Linked DNA regions of Homo sapiens: region 1 is linked to region 2. A link means that fine-mapping ties the variant in region 2 to the expression of a gene that starts in the linked region. Tissue or cell type: whole blood. Region 2 holds a variant in brackets; the other region holds the start of a gene. All regions are shown on one strand. Distances are between the middles of the regions.

The links. PIP is the estimated chance that this variant, and not a neighbour inherited with it, causes the effect.
Region 1: ERAP1 starts here. The variant in region 2 is fine-mapped to the expression of ERAP1 in whole blood (GTEx, PIP 0.96).

What each region holds. Positions count from the first base shown.
Region 1 is chr5:96,806,497-96,809,117 of GRCh38, reverse strand. ERAP1 (endoplasmic reticulum aminopeptidase 1) reads left to right here and starts at 1,173. Exons shown (of 19, transcript NM_001040458.3): 1 at 1,173-1,258. LOC124901033 (a long non-coding RNA gene) reads right to left here and starts at 1,660. Exons shown (of 3, transcript XR_007058879.1): 1 at 541-1,660. RefSeq lists enhancers at 493-562, 719-1,218, 1,219-1,720 and a silencer at 1,293-1,752.
Region 2 is chr5:96,642,679-96,645,435 of GRCh38, reverse strand. It overlaps a transcript of CAST not described here. Among named protein-coding and RNA genes, the nearest start is that of CAST, 18 kb to the left of the region's middle. The variant T/A (reference allele first, on the strand shown) is at 1,559.

The DNA of each region.
Region 1 (2,621 bases), 160 kb before region 2:
CCAGCTCCATGACAGTTTACAAATGCCACTGCAACGTCGGGAAGCTACCCTATATGGTCTAAAAAGGGGAGGCATGAATAATTTCCCCCGCTTAGCATATAATCAAGAAATAACCCTAAAAATGGACAACCAACAGCCCTTGGGGGTGCTCTGCCTATGAGTAGCCATTCTTTTATTCCTTTAGTTTCTTAATTACTTGCTTTCACTTTACTCCATGGACTCCCCTCAAATTCTTTCTTGCGCAAAATCCAAGAACCCTCTCTTGGGGTCTGGATCGGGACCCATTTTCGGTAATAAACTTGTAGCATTTGGTGTTTTAATGTTTGTGTTTTCTTGACTTGTTACCTCATTTAGCCTCAACTGTTTAAAGATGGTCTTTTTGGCCATTTTATTCAGCTTTAATTGTTCTAAGGGGAGTGAAGAAATGGTCATTTACTTTGAAAAATCAGAGGGAACGTGTTGATGCGGGAAGCAGCTAATCCTTGGGGTACAGTGGCCCTTGGTAGTGCAGGAAAGTCCTGGGGGCCACCTCTAACCCACCTTCCTCCTCTACAGCATCTCCCACTGTAGTCATTCTCTACCGAAGCCCCAGAAGGTGCGGCACTTTGCCACGACAGAGTACTGGGTTCATGTTTCTTTCCGAGGCGGGCCAAGAGCTCTCAGCCCACTGGCAGTGGCGAGATGACGGACACCCAGCGAGTCCAATGGGCGTCGAACGCGTCTAGGCTTGGTGGACTTGTCAGCGCCTGCCTGGCTTCGGTCCCCAACTTGAGCACCGGCCCTTTCCTGCATGCCCCTAACCCTCGCAACGCTAAACAGTGAAAAAAAAAAAAAGACAAAAACAAAAAGCATCTCAACACACACACACACACACACACACACACACACACACACACACACACACACACACACACACACACACACACACACGGATCCGCGTTCAGAAAGGCGTGCACTTCCTACGCCTGATCCCCCGCATCGCAACCTCGCAGCTTCCCCGGCGTGCAGCGCTCATTTACCAATTCCCTTCCTGGGAGTTGCGGCTTCCCTCGCTCGGCCCCACTCCCGTTTACCCTTTCCCCAGCTCCCGCCTTAGCCAGGGGCTTCCCCGCCTGCCGCTAGGGCTCGGGCCGAAGCGCCGCTCAGCGCCAGCCTGCCGCTCCCCGGGCTCCACTTTCACTTTCGGTCCTGGGGGAGCTAGGCCGGCGGCAGTGGTGGTGGCGGCGGCGCAAGGGTGAGGGCGGCCCCAGAACCCCAGGTACAGCGCGCTCGAGCCGCGGGTAGGGGACTGCGGGCCGGGAGGAGAGCGCGGCACCCGCCCCTTCCCTGCGCCCGTCAAGTGGGGGGCTGAGGGCCTGGGGCACGGGAGGAGGGAGACGGGGCACGGGAGGAGGGAGACGGGGCGCGGGAGGAAGGCGACGGGGCGCGGGAGGAAGGCGACGGGGCGCGAGACAGGGCGCGGGAAGGGCGGGGGGAGTCGCTGGCTAGGCCCGAGTCCGCGGGGTGCCCGGCGGGTTGGCGGCGGGCCCACCCCTGCCGGTCCCTGTCCCTGTCCCTCCGGGCGCGTGGCCGGTGCGCCTGCTTCACGGGTCTCCCCGCTGTTCGGCCGGCGGGAGCCTCCCTCAGCGCTCCGCCTGGCGCCTGGATGCCTGCCAGTCCTGCAGGCCACCGACGCCCGCGCGAGGCCAAAAGGCGGGGTGGGGCGGGCAGCTGGCTCGGGCTGAGGAGGGCACCTGCCCATAGCTGCTAGAGAAACCCAGAGGCTTTGGGTTAAAGACTCTGGTGGGGTGGGATGCGCGGGCCGTGTGTGTTCTTAAGGTCACTTCCCTCCCTGCTTCTCCTGTTCTTCTGGTCAGCAATTCTCTCTCTCCCCTTCGCTCTGGCTCTGGCTGGGTTTTATTCAGATAAAGCACCTCTGTTGACGCAAATTAAAAGTTTCCTATCTGGGTGCCTCACTGGCCAGGTGGTCCTACAAAGTTAATTCCATGAGGGGAAGGGGGAGAGCACACACTTCCTCACGCTTTTGGATTTCTTTGTGTAGGCTAGGTTCAGAAAGAAATTATCTGTTTCCTATTAAACACCCAGAGGATTCGCTCTGAACTCAGGACGTGGTCAACAATTAACAAAACAACAAAACAAAACAAAACAAAACAAAAAACTTGAAAATTGGGCACAGTTGTCTCTTGCCTGAGGATTTTTAATTAGTATAAGTAGCACATTTTCAGGTGCGGCCTGAATAGAAACATTCTAGTACTTTTTTTTTTTTCAAATTAATCCAGCATTTTTATTATTTACCAACAGTGCTTGTTAATTTCATTGTTCAGGAAATTCTGGAAGAACCTCAATTACTTCTTGATGATCTATTTCATATACTATAGTGCCCCAATAAAAGGAAGGGAGGCAGAGGTTGCAGTGAGCCAAGATCGCACCACTGCACTCCAGCCTGGGAGACAGAGCGAGACTCCGTCTCAAAAAAAAAAAAAAAAAAAAAAAAGAGGGATCTTGGTGAAGCTGAAAAAGCAGGGAGTTTATACTCACACAGATGTGGATTGCATTCCAACAAGTTGTGTGAACTTAGCAAAGTTACATGAATGGTTCTTTGCTTCAGTTACCCCACCTTG
Region 2 (2,757 bases):
TGGACTTAGTGACTTGCTTCCAAATAATATAGAAAGGGCGAAATAATAACATTGAAGTGGAAAAACCTGAAAGACACCACCTTAACCGCGTGATGAATGTTGACAGCACCAGTGGTAAGTCATGTGGATCTCATGTGGAATGTGACAAGAAGGCCGCTTTAGCACTGTGATAATCTTCCCCAGACTCATAACTCCAGCCTACTCATGAGAAAAACATCAGATAAGCTCATATCGAGAGATATTTTACAAAATACTAGATGTACTCCAACTGTCAAGGGCATGAAAAACAAGGAAAGTCTTAAAAACTGTCACAGGCCCCAGAGGAGTCGAAGGGGACATGATGACTAAATATAGTGAGTATGTAGTATTGGATTGGGACCTCCAACAAAAAAAGGGAATTAGTGGAATAATAAATCCAAATGAAGTCTGGAGTTTTGGGTTTTATTTGTTTGTTTGTTTTTTGAGACACTCTCACTCTGTCACCCAGGCTGGAGTGCAGTGGCCCGATCTTGGCTCACCGCAACCTCTGCCTCCCAGGCTCAAGCGATTCTCCTGCCTCAGCCTCCTGAGTAGCTGGAATTACAGGCACGTGCCACTACTGCTAGGCTAATTTTTGTATTTTTAGTAGACACGGGGTTTCACCATGTTGGCCAGGCTGGTCTCAAACTCCTGACCTCAAATGGTCCACTCGCCTCACCCTCCCAAAGTGCTGAGATTACAGGCGTGAGCCACGGCGCCTGGCTTGGAGTTTCATTAATAGTAATATCCTGATGTTGGTTTCCTAATTTTGACAGATGTATCACCATAATGTAAGATGATAACATCAGGGGAAATTGAAACTGAGTGAGGATTATAGGTGGATTCTCCATACCACCTGCACAACTTTTATGTCAGTCTAAAATTACTCCAAAATAAACTGTTATAAGAAAAACAATTTTATGTTTAACAAGACTTTTCTGGGAATGGACACCGCCAAAATATTTGTAGTAAATTTTTATTTGTAATAATAATTTTTAAAGGTTAAAGATAATTTTCTAGCAGTTGCTGGCTGTAGCTGACCAACATGCCATTTGAATCCACCAAGTACCAAAACTACTTCTGCTGTGAATGCCTTATTCTTGGAGAAGCAGTAAATATAAAATGGGTAAAGAGAAATTTAAATGACAGACTTTCACTGTACAAGAAACTTAATTAAAGACAAATTTGTTGTGAAGTATTTTTTTAAATAATGGTTTTATTCAAATATAATCCCCATACCATACAATTCACCCATATGAAGTATACAATTCCATGGTTTTTAGTATATTCACAGAGATGTGAATGATCAGTCAATTTTAGAACCTTTTCATCACCTCAAAAAGAAACCCTCAATTTTTTTTTTTTTGTTTTTGAGACGGAACCTCGTTCTGTCCCCCAGGCTGGAGTGCAGTGGCATGATCTTGGCTCACTGCAACCTCTGCGGCCTGGGTTCAAGCAATTCTGCCTCAGTCTCCTGAGTAGATGGGATTACAGGTGCACACCAACATGCCCAGCTAATTTTTTGTGTTATTATTATTAT[T/A]TTTTTGAGATGAAGTCTCGCTCAGTTGCCAGGCTGGAGTACAGTGTCATGATCTGGGCTCACTGCAATCTCGGCCTCCAAGGTTCAAGCGATTCTCCTGCTTCAGCCTCCCAAGTAGCTGGGATTACAGGTGCGCGCCACCACACCCAGCTAATTTTTATATTTTTAGTAGAGACAAGGTTTCACCATGTTGGCCAGGTTGGTCTCCATCTCCTGACCTCGTGATCCACCCACCTCGGCCTCCCAAAGTGCTGGGATTACAGGGGTGAGCCATTGCGCCTGGCCCATTTTTTTGTATTTTTAATGGAGTTGGGGTTTTACCATGTTGGTCAGACTGGTCTCGAACTCCTGACCTCAGATGTTCCACCTGTCATGGCCTCCTAAAGTGCTGGGATTACAGGCGTGAGCCACAGCACCTGGTAAGAAACTCCAAACTCTTTAGCTATCACCTTCCTATCCTCACATCTGTCCCCTCACCAGCCATAAACAACTACTAACTTTTCTGCCTCTATAGATTTAACTATTCTGAATATTTCATATAAATGGAATTATATAATAAGTGATCTTTTGTGACTGGCTTGAAGGATTATTTTGTATTCTCCAGATAGACTTTGAAGAACAGATAGCAAAAGTAACTTAGAAAAATGCACTTTTAGGGATGCAGATATTATATCATTTTGAAATATAATCTCAGTGCCCTACTCTCAAGGTGTCTTGCATCCCAGCTGCGTGCAAACATGCCACTCCACATTCCATTGTGAACGTTGTTTTGTATGTAGCAAAATAATAAATATAGAGTAGTGGTTAAGAGCACAGCCCAGAGAGGCAGACTGCTTGATTTAAATGCTAATGCTGTCCCTTAGCAGCAAATTACTCAACCTCTCTGGTCTCTGGTCCTTAATTTCCTCACCTGTAACATTGGGAAAATAATGGTTCCTACCTCATAAGGGTGTTAGAAGGATAAAATGAGCAAATAGATGCAAGGCCTTTGAAACAGTCTGTAGTACATATTAAGAACTATATGTATTTGGATGGGCGTGGTGGCTCACACCTGTAATCCCAGCACTTTGGAAGGCCTAGGTGGGCGGATCACTTGAGGTTAGGAGTTTGAGACCAGCCTGGCCAACATGGTGCAACCCTGTCTCTTGTCTATATTAAAAATACAAAAATTAGCTGGGCGTGGTGCCGGGTGCCTGTAA